2 separate regions of the Homo sapiens genome follow, and region 2 is linked to region 1. The links come from fine-mapping of genetic effects on gene expression. A gene starts in region 1. The other region holds a variant in brackets. All regions are shown on one strand. Distances are from middle to middle.

What was found.
Region 2: its variant is fine-mapped to the expression of UBOX5 in whole blood (INTERVAL, PIP 0.98).

Annotation. Positions count from the first base shown.
Region 1 is chr20:3,156,556-3,165,362 of GRCh38, forward strand. It overlaps UBOX5 (U-box domain containing 5), which reads right to left and starts at 3,310. Exons shown (of 5, transcript NM_014948.4): 1 at 3,211-3,310. FASTKD5 (FAST kinase domains 5) reads right to left here and starts at 3,310. Exons shown (of 2, transcript NM_021826.5): 1 at 3,211-3,310. LZTS3 (leucine zipper tumor suppressor family member 3) reads right to left here. Exons shown (of 5, transcript NM_001365618.1): 5 at 6,062-8,597. The coding sequence ends at 7,899.
Region 2 is chr20:3,115,496-3,124,209 of GRCh38, forward strand. UBOX5 (U-box domain containing 5) reads right to left here. Exons shown (of 5, transcript NM_014948.4): 2 at 7,817-7,911; 3 at 5,889-7,089. The coding sequence starts at 7,870. All of the region lies in intron 5 of UBOX5-AS1 (UBOX5 antisense RNA 1), which reads left to right. Among named protein-coding and RNA genes, the nearest start is that of UBOX5-AS1, 13 kb to the left of the region's middle. The variant C/T (reference allele first, on the strand shown) is at 4,724.

The DNA.
Region 1 (8,807 bases):
CTTTCTCCCCTTTAGGGGTCCTAACGAAACAGAGTAGAGCCTCAGACACTCCTGGACCCTGTCAGTTCCAAAAGGCAATGCCCAAACCTCCCTGAATGATGTGATTTCACAGGACTGAAGAATCTTACCTTTCTCCCTTCCACATACCGGTCTGAGCAGAGCCGAATAGCTTCATTTTAAACTAGAGTCTAGAAGTTAGAGGAGGGGGGCCAGGCAGAGGAAGGAGCGATGCTAACTGTAGACTGAGTATAAGACACCTTAAACACATACAATTTACCACTTACCAGATCTGATCCCTCAATTCTAACACTTTTCCTTTCTATGTCCCAATAAAATTGCCACAAATAAATGAACACTCCAACCCTATTCTTGTCTCAGCAAATAATTTGTTGAGCAACCTTAAGAATTAAAAAGGCAAAAAAACTGGCTAGACAGGTGGCTCATGACCATAATCCCAGCACTTTGGAAGGCCGAGCAGGCAGATCACGTGAGGCCAGGAGTTCAAGACCAGTCTGGGCTACATGGCGAGACCCTGTCTCTACCAAAAAAAAAGGGCAAAAAAACCGAACTTTCTCTAGGTGCTGAGGTATTCTGCTGAGAATCTACAAAACTTCAAAGCCCCTAGTGAGGGCTTAGAGACTGGCAGTAAGGACCTTAGCTGTTAATGTGGATGTTAACTGGGCTAGACTCTTCTGTGTTTCTGTTTCCACACGGGAGCAGGGCCTCAGAGAGGAGTCTACCAGTACTGCGAAGGTGAAGCACTAGTGCAAAGGTGTTTAGGTCAAGTTCAGTGTCACTCGCAGGTCTAAGCCAAACTAAAATTATTCAGTCTAGCAATCCATCCCTTCCTTTTTGTTCTAGACTCCATGCTGATAGGAGAAAAACAGCACATCACAAACATTTGTGAAACTTTTTCAGCTACACAGCCCTTCCGCTTCTCTTTTAAGACTCTGCTATTCCTCTATCAGAATGGCAAGAAGGATGTGGGTAGATATAGTATGACTAAGCCCTGTAGATGATTCTGTTAGAGCTACTGCTTTTAAAGGGTTTCATAAAACCCTGTCTTTAGAAAACCTCTCCATATAACAACAGGCAGTAGGCACTCATGTCCTCTCAGCCCATCTAAATGGGGCTTCTAGAGGAATTACAAAATCCAGGCAGGTAAAGAGAAGTAGCTGCATGCACACAGTCGTCATAAGAGAAAATTCCCAAATAAATGGTCCAAGTACCTATAACTGTTAGCTCAATAAACACTTGGTTTTATCTGCTTTTACAATTTGCAAGGCTGTATAGAGGCTGTATAGTACATACTTCAGACAAATAAAGAAGGAGTTTCAGAATTCTTTTGTTTTTTTTTTCAGACAGGGTCTCGCTCTGTTGTTCAGTCTGGAGGGCAGTGGTGCAATCTCCGCTCACTGCATCCTCGACCACTGCCCCCCACCTCTCACCCCGGCAACCTCCCGGGCGAGGATCGCTCAAGGATCTCAAACGATCCTCCCACCTCAGCCTCCTAAGTAGCTTGGACTACAAGCCCACCACCACGCCTGGCTACATTTTGTTTTTTTGTGTGTTTTTTTTGTTTTTTGTTTTTTTCGTAGAGACAGAGTTTCCCTATGTTGCCCCCAGGTTGGTCTCGAACTCCTGGGCTCAAGTAATCCTTCCACTTCGGCCTCCCAAAGTGCTGGGATTACAGGCATGAGCCACCGCACCTGACCTTAGAATTATTTTATATCAAAGTTGACTTATTCACATGATGAATGGCAAGGCCTTATTAGGGACTAAAAAAATAAACCAATGGATGGGGAAGAAAATCATACTGACTAATAAACATTAGACCTGCATAACTGCCAAAGGCCTCACTTTTTAAGTTATGTTATGCAGCACAGAGTCTTCAGATTTTATTTACTTATTTATTTATTTATTTATTCATTTATTTGAGACGGACTCTCGCTCTCTCGCCCAGGCTGGAGTGCAGTGGCGCGATCTCGGCTCACTGCACACTCCGCCTCCCGGGGTTCACGCCACGCTCCTGCCTCAGCCTCCAGAGTAGCTGGGACTACAGGCGCCCGCCACCACGCCCAGCTATTTTTTTGTATTTTTAGTAGAGACGGGGTTTCACCATATTAGCCAAGATGGTCTCGATCTCCTGACCTCGTGATCCGCCCGCCTTGACCTCCCAAAGTGCTGGGATTACAGGCGTGAGCCACTGTGTCCGGCCCAGATTTTATTTTAGTCTACCAGGTAGTAGCAAACTATCCAAGGACTTGCCCAGGACCATTCAGGTCAGTGAGCTACAGAATCTAGTTCTGGAAAGGCAGCCATTCTTACTATTCACAAAGTGTAGAAAACGTGAATTCAGATTCCAGCAGCAACAAATGACTGGAGCACAAAACGCCAGCCACAGTTGGTGCTAACGCAGCTGGCTATCAGCTCCACAGGATGAAGCACTGTCCAAGGGTCTGATCAGTGAAGCATCACCCAAGACTGATGAACACAGCTGATATGAGGGGACCCAAAGTTCCCTGAGTCAAGACAGAAGAGCTGTGTCACGGTTTGCACAGAAAGAGAAAGAGCAACTATTCTTACCCACGGAAAGAAAAAGGGAGAAGGCCATCAATACTACCCTTAGGCTTGTGCAACGAGAAACTGCTAAAAATGGGGGGAAGGTATATATCCTATCATACTGATGTTTACCGAAGACTCCGCATCCCAAATGCTAAGCAACATACTGTAGGGCCTTGCTACTCAGTGTGTGGTCTGCGTGCCAGAGGCTTCAGCCTCGTCTGGAATCTAGTTAGGAACACAGTTATCTCAGAACCCACCCCAGTCCTACAGAATCAGAATCTCTAAGCGATTCGCAGGCACATCAAAGTGTGATGAGAGGCGCGGCAGAATATCTGACTACATTCTCTTAACAGCACCGTGAGACAAGTACTGTTACGATCTCCATTTCACAGAGGAAAAAAAATCAAGGGTCAGATAAGCCCCCTGCCAAAGATCACAAACTCAGGAGCGGCGAGAGTCACTGAAGTTCTCACCACAGCCAGGCCTGCGAGAGGCACTGGCAACCCAGGCCAAGAGCTGAACAAGGCCTCGATGCGCTCCAGCTCTGGGCCGGCCGGGAGGACAGGAGGCACAGGCCAAGGCCCAGGACGGTCGTGAACGCGGAAAGAGGCCGCCGCGACCTCCTCCCCGGCCGCCGCCACTCACCTGATCCTCCCGAAGGTGGGCGCCGCAACACCAAACCGGGGACGCCGCGGGCGGCGGCGACACAGATACTGGCTCCTCCGGCGACTCCGAGCCTCACAGCCCCACTTCCGGCCAACTGCCCGCTACTTCCGCCTGCTGCGCGAGTGACGGATGCGGCCGAGGCTCAAAAGACTCTGTCAGCGTTTCCCAAGGACATTTTCCACTGGAGGACGTTGTTGAGGAGGCAGGGGGAGTCTAGGACCTGCAGAGGGAAAACACCTTCCTGGATGGATCGCTCTGGAAGTCATTAAGCAGCTTAGTCCCGGCGCGGTGGCTCACGCCTGTAATCCCAGTACTTTGGGAGGCCAAGGCGGGCGGATCACCTGAGTTCAGGAGTTCGAGACCAGCCTGGCTAACGTGGTGAAACCCCCGTCTCTACTAAAAATACAAAAATTAGCCGGGCGTGGTGGCGCACGCCTATAATCCAGCTATTCAGGAAGCGGAAGCAGGAGAGTCGCTTGAACCCGGGAGGCGGAGGTTGCAGTGAGCCGATATCTCGCCACTGTACTCCAGTCTGGGCACCCCTGTACTCCAGCTCTGGGACACAGAGCGAGACTCCATCTAAAAAAAAAAAAAAAAAAAAAAAAGTAAGTAGCTTAGACACATGTTCAAATCTGAGGACCACCACTCAGGGTTTTATGGCCTTGGAGAAGTCACATAAATTCATTCTTGTTATATTATTATTATTATTTTCATAGAGACGGGGATGGCAGTGTCTTCCTATGTTGCCCAGGCTAGTCTCGAACTCCTGGGCTCATGCAATACTGCCGCCTCAGCCTCCGAAAGTACTGGGATTACAGGTATGAGCCATCGCACCCGGCCCACATAAATTCTCTAAGCCTGTACAGTGAGAAAAACAATACATTTTTTTTTTTTTTGAGACAAAGTCTTGCCCCATTGCCCAGGCTGGGGTGCAATGGTGCAATCATGGCTCACTGCAGCCTCAACCTCCTGGGTTCAAGTGATCCTCCTGCCTCAGCCTCCTGAGTAGCTAAGACCACAGGCATGCACCACCACACCTGTCTAATTTTAACAATGCATTGGTCGGGTGTGGTGGCTCACACCTGTAATCCCCGGTGTTGGAGACCGGCCTGGCCAACATGGTGAAACCTCGTCTCTACTAAAAATACAAAAAAAAATTAGCGGGGCATGGTGGCGTGCACCTGTAACCCCAGCTACTTGGGAGGCTAAGGCAGGAGAATCACTTGAACGCAGGAGGTAGAGGTTGCAGTGAGCCGAGATTGCACCACTGCACTCCAGCCGGGGCAACAGTGAGACTCCATCTTTTTTTTTTTTTAATGCATTTATAATAGAGATGTATCTGTAAAGTGCTCTCAGGAAAAGAGCTAGTGACATGATGGATAGATGAGCCTGCTGAGAGAAATGGATGTGGAGCTGGGGCTTAGCGAGGCCAGAGCTATGGAGCATGAGCCAGGGTGATTCTCCACCACCCTAAGAAGGAGGGCTGGGTCCTACTGGGTACATATATTGACACAGCTGTCAGTATAGGTACCTAGACAAGAAAGAGACTCTACTAAACCTCTACCTATCAGAAAGTCCTGGCCCCAGGCTGCCATTCCTGAGGGCACTTGAGATCTGCTGATCAGGGTCTTCATATCTTGTCAATGCCTTGGCTCTAAGGGGTGTGAAGGAGAGCTGAGAAATCATGCTCCCTCCAGGGCCTATCTTGTAGGGAAGACAAAATCAATGTAGGAAGAACACGTCCCTGCCAGGAGGGGCAAGCCTGACATCCCAACTCCTGAGCTCTGGAGACAGCGCTGTTTGAATATCTGGAGCCCCAGACCACAGACACCACTGCTTAGGGAGGGTTCTCTCCCTCAGGCCAGACCAGGGCAAACACTATTCATTGTTATGACTCTGTCCTTGCCAGTAGAACCCAGAGAAAGCAGAGAGCCTGCCCCCAAGGAATGAACCATGTTTGTTCCTAGGCAGCCATGACAATCCTGTTTCTCTTTGTAATACTCAAATTCCCATTCTCCCTTGAAGTGGGAGGAGCATGTGGCTCAGTTCTGGCCAACAGGACTTAAAGGGAAGGGTCCTGGGAGGGCTCTGGGAAAGCTTTTACTTTTCATGATAAAGTAGGGCCGCCTCAATGTCTTCATGGAGCTGTGGCAGCCACTTTGTGGTAAGGAGGGAACAACATGCCAAGGATGGAACAGTGGGAGGATGAAAATCTAGGTCCCCGAGGATCCAACAACCATGACACCACCTCCGGATTTCTTGTCAGGTTGGGGAAAAATAAACCACTCTTTGAGGTCCTTTGATTACTTACAGCAGAGTGCATTCTTGATTGTGTGCTTTGAGAGGATGACAGAGGAACTGTTGTAAAGGGAAGCTCTCTGCTGTGCAGCACGCTTGGGTCCCTTTTGCCTTTGGGGCTTCGCCATTAATTGCAAACCTGTTCCCAGTCTTCACTTCTATCCATTCAGCCCGCAAACATCTACCAGTTGCTGTAAGGTGGCTTAGGCGACTGCAGGCTGCATCTAGCTGTCCTGCGTCACCTGTTTTCTGGCTAGCAGCTTAGTGTCCAGATTCTGAGCTGGAGCCAGCTTTTAACCCCTTTGGCAACAGTCTGAGCTGAAGAGAAAGCCCCACTGGGCATATACATGGCACCACGACTCTTCCCGGGCAACGTGGCAGAACTTGGGCTTTGGGCCAACCTCCTAGCACGGCCCAGTGAGCACCTCCAGTCTCATGCCTCCTCTGGGAAATCTGTTTACTCCAGCTTTGCCCCCATCCCCCACCCGGGCCTCACCTCCCGCACCTGCAAAGACACAAGCAGGCCAAAGAATACCACTCAAGAGGCTTTTTCCGTTTTATTTCTTTGGGAAAGGAAAACAAAAAGTCTTTCCATCACATATGGTAGAGATATATATTTATATATATTTATATATAATTTCTTTTGTGGTTGGACGTCCCAAAGCTGAGTCTGTTCATATTTTTTTCTATTTTTTTCTTACTAATGCCTTCTCTTCTCCCTGCCCCTGTGGCCTAGGCCCAGGTTCTAGGGCAGGTACAGTGAGGGGTGAATGGAATGGGCAGTGGTCGCCAGGATGGCCTCCCACCCAGCTCAGAGACCTGGTGAGGACCACCCAGAAGGGCTGTGCAGAGGGTTAGAGGCCACACAGAGGGGCACTCATGTTTTTGTGGGGGATGCACAGCTCATTAAACAGTCACCAGTCATGGGAGGAGGCTGGTCAGGGGCTAGGGGACTTGCTCACAGTAGTTGCCAGCTCTCTCCACCTTGCCCCCCAAAACTCAGTCTTGGGGGTGGGAGGAAGAGAGTGAAAAAGAGAGAGATATAAGGGCTGAGGGCCAAGCCTCCTCCAATTTTTATTGCTGGTGAATTAGAAATTTGCTTTTCCCTTCCTGTCTTGGGGAGATAGACTCTGAGAGGGCCCCAAGAGAAGCAGCTGACATTGGCTGACCTAACCCCTCATGCCAGGCCTACCCTGGGCAGGTGCTGAGCCACCTCAGGGCGCCAGGAACCTCTCAGGTCAGCCTTGTTCTTCAAGGGCAATCACATCCAACTCTCCCCCCGCCCCCAAAACAAGGGCCTCCGGCTCAGACTTGGGCCAGTGGAGCTGGGAAGTGGGCAGTGCACCAAAGGTCAAGCGGAATTTTCTATTGGAAGAAAAGGTGAGACTTTGGGGAAGAGACTGCCTAGGAAGATGATGTGCTGAGCATGAAAGCAGAAAGAGGCTGGGGGAATAGAGTGCGGGAAGACATCGCAGACACTCGTCTGACCTCAGAAACTGGGCGAGGAGAGTGCCTGAGAGGCAGGTAGCACTTAATAGCTGTGTTAGAGCCGGACAGTGGTCCTGGGTGTGGGGTCAGCCAAGCAGATGGGGCTGTTGCCCTGCGGGATCCTGGCCAGAAGGGTGAGGGTAGAGCCGAGAAGCCGTCAGGCAACGCTTCCCAAGAACAGGAGGACAGATCTTCCCTGGGTGCTGGACTTCCAGCCCCAGTCCTCCCCTCCCGCAACACACACACAGGGACACACACTCACAACCAGGCCAGGCTCTGAGGCCTGAGTCCAAGAGATCTTGTTGGGGGAGGGGCTGGGCAGGTAGCCCTCTCAGCCAAAGGCAGGCCATCTGCTCCCACTTGTCCTGCCAATCTGCCCAGGGAGGGAGAGCACTGTAGGAGGGAGAGAGGTCTGGAGCCCAGGCTCTGTCAGTTTCAGCAAACCTGGTGCAGGCCCCCTCAGGCTCCATGGCCTAGGAGGTGAGCACAGAGAGCATCACTAGACACAGGGTGGCCAACAGTAGCAGCCCAGGCCTCCAGAAGGACTGGGGCACCTTATGGCACTGCACGTCTGCTGCCTCCATCTCCAACAAGGGGGTGCCGAGAAAGGGAGCATGACTCCCCCACCACCTAGGATTGCCCCCACTCACCCTGCCCTCCTCCTATTCCCTCCTTTTAGGGGGGTCCAAGTGGGCTGCCACGGGGGCAGTGCTGGAGCTAGGAGGGCAGGTGGGGAGGGAGGAACCTGGTCACAGCTGCTTAGAGAACCTCTTTGGTCTGGGGTTATGGGGTCTATGGGGAAGAGAGATGGAGGGGAGGGGACACTGGGGACTCTGGCCTTTTGACAGGACATGTGTCAAAATGCCGAGTGCCCAGGTCGATCAGATTTCTGTGGACTCAATGCGCTCGAGGCGGGAGGGGGTCCAGGCCTTCTTCTCCTCGCCATGCTGGGGAGTGGGCGTGCTTGCACCCCCTGCGGCCCCGCGCTCCCGCAGCCTGCGCTCCAGCTGCTGGTTGCGCTGGTACATCTCCACGTAGCTCAGCTGCAGCTGCTTCTGGTACTCGATCACCTTCTCCTTCTCCTCCAGCCACACGCGGCGCTCCTCGGCGAAGCTGGCACCCTGGCGCTCCCGGGCCCGCCGCTCAGCCGCCAGCTCGGCCTGCAGCCGCCCCACCTCCCGCCGCAGGGCCCGCGTCCCGCTCTCCCCGCCAGCCTCCGCCTCCCCGTCCACGGAAACCAAGGAGGCGGCAGCGGCCACCCCGGCCTGACGGCGCATCTTAGCCTCGTCGCTCTCGCAGGTGGCCAGAGCATCCTGTGGCTCGGCCGGGTCCACGGGGGTCAGCGCCGGCTTGAGGCAGGCGGCAGGCAGCTCGCCTTCGCCCAGCTCCAGGCTGGCCTGCTTGCTGCTGAAGGAGTCCCGCAGGCTGAGCAGCTGCTCCTCCTTCTCCCGCAGCGAAGCCCGGCCCTCCCGCAGCTGCGAGCGCAGTCCCACGATCTCACTCAACTTCTGCGACACATCCGCCTGCGAGTCCTTCAGCTGCTGCTTCAGGAGGGAGATCTCGCCAGCCTTCTGGCACACCTGGGCAGGAACAGGTGAGAGGAGAAGCCAGGTAAAGGCAGAGCTCTGCTCACCCCAACCCAGCTACCAGATCTGGAGCCAGGGGCACCAAGCTTCCCGGGGCTGCAGGCTCAGCCCCTCATCAGCAGCGACGCACCCGATTCCCTGCCTGGACTCAAGATGGACATGTCTCACCCAGCGGATGGCCTCGGGTCCTCACAGACACTCCCA
Region 2 (8,714 bases), 41 kb before region 1:
CAGAGACAGGCTCCGCAAAAGAGAACAGCCTCAAGTCCTTCGAGGGCTGTAAAAACGGCACCTCCAATCTCACACATCAATGTAATGAAACTCCATCCTAATGTCTACTGGCGGACCATGACAGAACACCGGGAGGTAAAGCCCTAGGAACACCGGCAGTTCCTGCCCATCCCACCGGCTTCAGGCTTTTCTCCTCCTGGAGAAACTGCTGGGCAGACATGAGCCACCTCGTGGCTCAACTGCAGAACTGCACGCTCCTTTTTTTTTTTTTTTTTTTTTTTGAGATGGAGCCTTGGTCTGTCGCCCAGGCTGAGAAGGAGTGCAGGGGTGCCATCTCAGCTCACTGCAACCTTCGCCTCCTGGATTCAAGCGATTCTCCTGTCTCAGCCTCCCAAGTAGCTGGGACTACAGGTGTGCGCCACCACGCCTGGCTAATTTTTTGTATTTTAGTAGAGACGGGGTTTCACCATGTTGGCTAGGAGATCTCCTGACCTCGTGATCCACCTGCCTCAGCCTCCCAAAGTGCCGGGATTACAGGCGTGAGCCACAGCGCCTGGCCTCCTTTCTAAAGGCCTCCTTGCTGGCCAAGAAAATAACTGGGGCAAGCAAACGCCAGCTTTGGACTGCTGCTCCCTGCCCCCCATTCCCTCCCCAGCGGCCTTAGTCTTCTCTTTCCCTAACTCCACCCTTCTGGGGACCCCACCACCCCCCAGAGGGGTTCATCTGCATTTTCTAGGTGTTCATGTCCTCTCTCTCCTGTTAAGTAAAACAAAGCAGTTTTTACCGAATAGAACTAAGACCCCACGTTGACCACGCCACAATTTAGGGGACCTTTAGTGTAGGATCAACAGAAAGCCAAGCCATGGAATGAGGGTGAAGGCCAAAGGGGTAGGGGGACAGCTGCCCAAGAAAGACCCCAGGGACCTGTGTGGCAGAAAAATTTGCAATGCTGTCTCAAAGAGGAGAATGGAAACTTTTGTCCACTGTTTGCAGGACACAGGACATCAGCTCAGGGCCTTGAAGGAGCCCTAGTCAGCGTGGTCCTGAGTCACCAAGTCTGTCAAGGCCAACAGGACTGAGACCTCCACAAACTGACGCTGAAGTCTAAGGACCTTTTTCCTTGTTCCACCCCACTGCGCCTCAGATGTTTCCAGGAGTTTCTGAAGGTCATGTTAACTAGAATTTACTCTTAAAACCAAAGACACAGAAATAAACGTTAAGCATAGTATTTGCATAGTCTTTTAGAAGAACATAGGAAACTAAAAGAATGATCAACCTAAACAGAATAATTTCCATAAGGAAAAAGAAAAGGTTGCCAGGCCAGGCACAGTGGCTCACACCTGTAATCCCAGCACTTTGGGAGGCTGAGACAGGCAGATCGCCTGAAGTCAGGAGTTCAAGACCAGCCTGGTCAACATGGCGAAATCCTGTCTCTACTGAAAATACAAAAATTAGCCAGGCGTAGTAGTGCGTGCCTGTAATCCCAGCTACTCGGGAAGCTGAGGCAGGAGATTCGCTTGAACTCAGGAGGCAGAGGTTGCAGTGAGCCATAATCACACTACTGCACTCCAGCCTGGGTGACAGAGCGAGACTCCATCTCAAAAAAAAAAAGGAAACGTGTCAAAGAGCTACCCTCCACAAGCACCAAGCACTGACAATCACAAGGACTTCTACTAGACAGGCAGAGTGGGTATTCCAATACTATTCAATTGTTCCACAGCACAGAAAAGAAAAAATTCTAAATTCTTTCTATGGAACAAAAAAATCATCAATGACACCTGACCAAAGATGGCACACACACACACACACACACACACACACACACACACACACTACAGTCCAACCCCACTAATGAATACAAAAATCCTAACACTAGCAAACAGAACCATTAAAATCTATTAACAGGGGCCAGGCGCTGTAGCTCATGCCTGTAATCCCAGAGTTTTGGGAGGCCAAGGCGGGTGGATTGCCTGAGCTCAGGAGTTTGTGACCAGCCTGGGCAACATGGTGAAACACCGTCTCTAATAAAATACGAAAAATTAGCCGGGTGTGGCGGCATGTGCCTGTAGTCCCAGCTACTCAGGAGGCAGAAGCAGGAGAATTGCTAGAATCCAGGAGGCAGAGGTTGCAGTGAGCCAAGATCGCACAAGTGCACTCCAGCCCGGGCGACAGAGCGAGACTCCGTCACTATATAGATAAATAAATAAATAACAGGGCTGGGCGTGGTGGCTCACACTTGTAATCCCAGCACTTTGGGAGGCTGAGGCAGGCAGATCACCTGAGGTCAGGAGTTCAAGACCAGCCTGGCCAACATGGCGAAACCCCATCTCTACTACAAATACAAAAATTAGCCAGGCATGGTGGCGAGCGCCTGTAATCTCAGCTAATCAGGAGGCTGAGGCAGGAAAATCACTTGAATCCGGGAGGCGGAGGTTGCAGTGAGCAGAGATTGCGACACTGCACTCCAGCCAGGGCGACAGAATGAGACTCTGTCTCAAAAAATAAAAATAAAAATAAAAAAAATTAGCCAGTATGGTGCTGTGCGCCTGTAGTCTTGGCTACCGAGGCAGGAGAATCACTTAAATCCCAGCAGCAGAGGTCGCAGTGAGCAGAGATTGCGTCACTGCTGCACTCCAGCCTGGGCGACAGAGGGAGACTGTTTCCAAAAAAACAAAACAAAAAGAAACCATTAACAGGCCGGGCACTATCGCTCATGCCTGTAATCCCAGCACTTTGGGAGGCTGAGGCAGGTAGATAACCTGAGGTCAGGAGTTCAAGATCAGCTTGGCCAACATGACAAAACCCAGTCTATACTAAAAATACAAAAATTAGCTGGGCACGGTTGTGGGCACCTGTAATCCCAACTACTCTGGAGGCTGAGGCAGGAGAATTGCTTAGACCAGGAGGCAGAGGTTGCAGTGAGCCAAGATTGTGCTATTGCACTCCAGCCTGGGTGACAGAGTGAGACTCTGCCTCATAAAAATACAAAAATCAGCCAGGTGTAGTGGCTCACACCTGTAATCCCAGCACTTTGGGAGGCCGAGGTGGGTGGATCATGAGGTCAGGAGATCAAGACCATCCTGGCTAACACAGTGAAACCCCGTCTCTACTAAAAGTATTAAAAAAATTAGCCAGGTGTGCTGGCGGGCGCCTGTAGTCCCAGCTACTCAGGAGGCTGAGGCAGGAGAATGGCGTGAACCAGGGAGGCGGAGCTGGCAGTGAGCCAAGATCGCGCCACTGCACTCCAGCCTGGGCGACAGAGCGAGACTCCGTCTCAAAAAAAAAGAAAAAAAATCAGCCAGGCGTGTTGGCACGCACCTATAGTCCCAGCTATTCCAGAGGCTGAGGCATGAGAATTGCTTGAACCCGGGAGGCAGAGATTGAAGTGAGCCGAGATCACACCACTGCACTCTACCCTGAGTGACACAGTGAGACTCCATCTCAAAAAAAAAGGAAGGAAGGAAGGAATTATTTAGGTTGAATTACACAGAAGTTTGTCACTGATCTGTGTTCTCGAACTAAGAAATATGAAGATGGAGGCTAAGAAATCATTTCTCTTAATATTATAAATAAGCAATTAACAAATACCTTGGGAAAAATAAGAATACAATAGAAGTGAGGAGTGTGACTTTCAAGATTACATTCTAAAAGATGGATTTCCCTCGTCTGTGCACTCTCTCTGGAACGCACAGCTCCCACACAGTACACTGCCCTATGGAGAGGCCCACAAGGCAAGGAACCGAGGGCAGCCTTGGGCCAACAGCCAACCAGCAAGTGAGGCCTCAGTCCAACAATGCATCAACGAGCTGAATCTTGCAACAATGATGTGGGTGAGACTAGAAGTAAATGCTTCCCCAGTTGATCCTTGAGATGACCACAGCCTCAGCCACCAGTTTGATGGCAGACTTGGAAGACCCTGAAGCAGAGAATCCAGCCAAGTTACGCTGGGATTTGTGATCCACAGAAGTTATGAGACAATGAATGTTTGTTGCTGTAAGCCAGTAAGTTTTGGGGTAATTTGTTACCTAGCAATAGATAACCAATACTTCTTTAACATGATAAAAACATCTATCTCAGGCCAGGCGCGGTGGCTTATACCTGTAATCCTAGCACTCTGGGAGGCTGAGGTGGGCGAATCACCTGAGGTCAGGAGTTCGAGACCAACCTGGCCAACATGGTGAAAACCTGTCTTTACTAAAAATACAAAAAATTAGCCGGTGTGGTGGTACATGCCTGTAATCCCAGCTACTTGGGAGGCTGAGGCAGGAGAATTGCTTGAAGCTGCGAGGCGGAGGCTGCAGTGAGACGAGATTGCGCCATTGCACTCCAGCCTGGGTAACAGAGTGAGGCTCCATCTCAACAACAACAAAAAAACATCTATCTCAGCCTAAGATCCAACATCCAGCTTGCCCTGAGGTATTCACACTGAACACATTCAGCTGCAGAGGTCACCCAGTGAACCAGGGCTGCTCACCTCAGGAGAGAGCAGCATCACCGGCCCTAGAAATCACTGGCAATGCCCCAGGGAAGAGGCAGGAAGCCAGGATCCTTAAATCTCATACTCAAGAATGTTGCAGGCCAGGCACAGTGGCTTGCAGATCCCAGCACTTTAGGAAGCCGAGGCAGGTGGATCACGAGGTTAACAGGTTGAGACCATCCCGGGCACCATGGTGAAACCCCTTCTCTACTAAAAATACAAAAATTAGCTGGGCGTGGTGGCGCG[C/T]GTCTGTAATCCCAGCTACTCCAGAGGCTGAGGCAGGAGAATCACTTGAACCTGGGAGGCGGAGGTTGCAGTGAGCCAATATCACGCCACTGCACTCCAGCCTGGTGACAGAGCGAGACTCCATCTCAAAAAAAAAAAAAAAAACAGAAGTCGAGTGCAGTGGCTTACATCTGTAATCCCGGCACTTTGGGAGGCCAAGGTGGGTGGATCACAAGGTCAGGAGATTGAGACCATCCTAGCTAACAAGGTGAAACCCCGTCTTTACTAAAAATACAAAAACTTAGCCAGGCGTGGTGGCGGGCGCCTAATCCCAGCTACTCGGGAGGCTGAGGCAGGAGAATGGTGTGAACCCGGAAGGCAGAGCTTGCAGTGAGCCGAGATCATGCCACCGCACTCCAGCCTGGGCGACACAGCGAGACTCCATCTCAAAAAAAAAAAAAAAAGATTGTTGCAATTTTACCTGGTGGATCCTGCCAAATGCAATAAAGAAGAAAAACAGAAAAAAACACAAAGAGAATATTGCAATTTGTCCACACATTTACTGAGTGCACCCTCTTCAGTGTGGCTTTTCTCTTCAGTAACCCTCTCCTGAAAGGAAGGCCCACAGACCTAGTCCTTTTTCCTTTTCTGTGTCCTCATGCCACATGGTGAGGGGGGCGCACAGAGAACCTCCATGCAATATATCCTTGTACCTCTGTGACGGTTAGAAATAACACCCAGAGGAGCCCACTGTCACATGAGTAACACAAAGAAGGCACCAGAAGAGATTCTCTGCTTTGAGGGACTGGTATCTTTCCTCCCAGCAGCTCTGACCAGAGGCTTCAAGCCCAGGAAAAAGTGTTGACCAGGCCAGGGCACATAAAGGGACCCCAAGGAAGGCAACAGTGCCCATGGGACCATCACCAACAGAGGAGCGAAACACGCAGACTGAAGCCTCGGAACAGATGAGAATAGACGAGAACACATGGAACCCCTCCAAGGCTCCAGGTTGTCCCTGGTCTGAAGACAAAGCTGAGGGGCCCCAGGATGGGAAACGGGAAGGAGGCAGCACAGGCACAGCCTCGGGAATGTAAGCTGGCCAAGCACAAAGCAAAGGGCAGCAGAGCTGAGAGCTCCTGGGAAGGAGATGGATGAGCCTGGCTGCGGACACAGGATGCTGAATTACCTGTCGAGCAGTCCATATGTGTCAGGCTGGGCTCATTGGTGGCTTTCATTTTCTTAGCAGTGTGCTCTGAGGTAGTGGGTAAGACCAAAGGGCTTGTGGCAGAAAAACAGGAAGCATTTACACCAAAGTTACTGTCTGGGACATGTTCAGCCTGCTCTATCTTCCTTTTCTGAGAGGGCAGAACAATGGAAGAAGGGATCACTGCCAATGCCGTCTGTGCTCTCCCAAGCAGGTGGCAGCCAGGGATGGAGTGCTGGAGCAGGAAATGGTCAATCCGGGCCTTGAGGGAGGGGTGAGGCAGGGGCTGAGAGTGCGGAGTAAAAGCTACCCCCGTGAAAGGGTCACTGGGCACTCGGCCCCATGTGGCTTCACTGCGGTTACACTTCTCCAGTGTGCTCTGGTCGATGACCTTGCCTGAGGGCAGCAGCATGGGACAAGGCATGATCTCCAGGGTGATGGGATCCAGGAACTCCTCAGGCACATCCTGAATGATCTCGGCCAGCTTCTGCAGGCTGGAGGGAGCCTGCTGGCTCTCAGGCTGGTCCCCAGGGTCACAGTCACTTTCCATGGGCAAGGCTGGAGCCTGCAGAGCCACATCCTGAGGCAGGTTCTCTGAGGTGACCAGCAGGATGCTGTCTATCACTTCCTGGGAGCAGGTCTTGGCCGGCTGACCCCACACTTCCAACCGCTTGATACAAGGGATACCGCCGCCTGTCACATGGGTGATACAGATCCTTAAGTGGGCCACGTGGCTAAGGGAAAGAGCCCCTTTATTCCAGAGCTCCTGGGCCACAACAGCAGGGGAGGGGAGTGTGGCTTCCATCGCGCCAAAAGGGGGCCTGGCCTTGAAGCCCCTGTGGCTAAACACCACTTGGCTCTGGTTTTTCAGTAAGACTTTGCCTACCAAGGTGAACGCCTCCTTGTCTGGGACAGATGGCTCAGCTGGGCCCAGGGTCCGGCACTGGGGCGTATTCCAAGACACTCTGCTAGATGAGGCAGATGTGTACATTTCCAGGCCAGTGACGTTCTGACCTCCCCCAGCTGTGAGGTCTATGTTGATCCTACAGATTTCCACATTAAAGGGAAATGAAACTGTCACATAGACTGGTGGCTTAATGAAATACTCTGTCCTGAAACCATGACTTCTCTTTGTGAGATCTTCAGAGATGAGATTTTCTACTTCGTAACCATCAGCTGATATCTAGATTTAATAAAAAACACAAGATACAATGATCCAAATGAAGACAACTTGTCACTTGTAAGAAAACTCTTAAGCCTGAGGTTCCTCGTTTTAAAATTTCCTCTATTAAACTGAATTGTCCCAGATCAGGGCACCCAAGATCAGATCAAAGGCCAAGGGCAATTGTCCCAGATCGGGGCCCCCAAGTATTGCCCAACCTTAAAAATATGAGCAACTGAGCTGGGCATGTTGGTACACACCTGTAGTCCCAGCTACTCAGGAGGCTGAGGCAGGAGGATCCCATTAGCCCAGGAGTTAGATAGGCCTGGGCAACATAGCAAGACCCCATATCCCTTTTCCCTGCCAAAAAAAAAAGCAAGCAACAAAATCCTGCCCAATCCAACCAAAACTCCCTTCAAAACAGTATCTGGGGAGAGAAGTGCAGGGGAGAGAAAGTATTTCTACCTTTGCTATGACTTTGACGAGACTGGAGATTGATCATCAAAGAACAAAGAGCACAGTGAAGAGGACCCTGCACAAAATGAGTCACAGCTCACCTCACCATGGCGCTGTGTGATTCTAGAGGTGAGCCTGCCCCATGCTTACCTAAATACCATCTGATGGAATCTAAAGTAACAAGAGCAAAAGTGCAGTAAGCCTGAATCAAATCCACACACACAAGGCAGGAAATGATGAAACACATGACAAACATAGCATATATTTATGTGTATATATTTGTTTTGTTTACCTTGTTGCAGTGAATTCTTGGTCTGAACTGTGGGAGGCAAAGATTTATTACCATCTTTGTGGCTGAGAGGATATCTTCCAAGCATCAGAAGCAGCCTTAAATAAGAAATAAAACTATGTATTAGAAAATGTAAAATTCAATTCTAAACTTTCAGAAGTTGATTCTTAAGAGAATCAAACAGGATGGCAACAAAAACTTGAACACACACACTCTCACGGTCCACACTGACTTTCCTTATATCCTATACATGATGTTGGGGAAAAATTAGTCACTGAAAAATTATAGAGAAGACTTCTATGGCAGGCTCAACAGGTTGGCAAAGACTGCCAGTTCTCTGGCCAACAGCTGTTCCAAAGACCCAATGGAGGCAAGGCCCATCAGCTGTGCTGGGGGTTGCCACAGGAAGGGAGTGGCAAAAGTATCTGAGCTCAGAGAAAGGACAGAGTGTTCGGAATGGAAAGGGTCATAAAAAATAATTATAGTGGTGGTAAGCATCCTTGTCATTTAATACTTGTCAATGCAATTATGTTTTCTTATTAAAATGAAAACAATGAGTCAAAAACATCATTATTGAGACATAGAAAATTTATTAGAGGCCAGGTGTGGTGGCTCATGCCTGTAATCCCAACAATTTGGGAGGCTGAGGTGGTAGGACTGCTTGAGCCCAGAAGTTCAAGACCAGCCTGGGAAACATAGCTGGTCTTGTTGTAGAGACCCCATCTCTACAACAAAACGTTGTAGGGATCTTGCTATGTCTGATATGCACCTGTAGTCACAACTATTTGGGAGGCTGAGGTGGATCACTTGAGCTCAGGAGTTCAAGGCTGCAGTGAGCTATGATCACACCACTGCATTCCAGCCTAGGTGACAGAGTGAGACCCTGTCTCAAAGGAAAAAA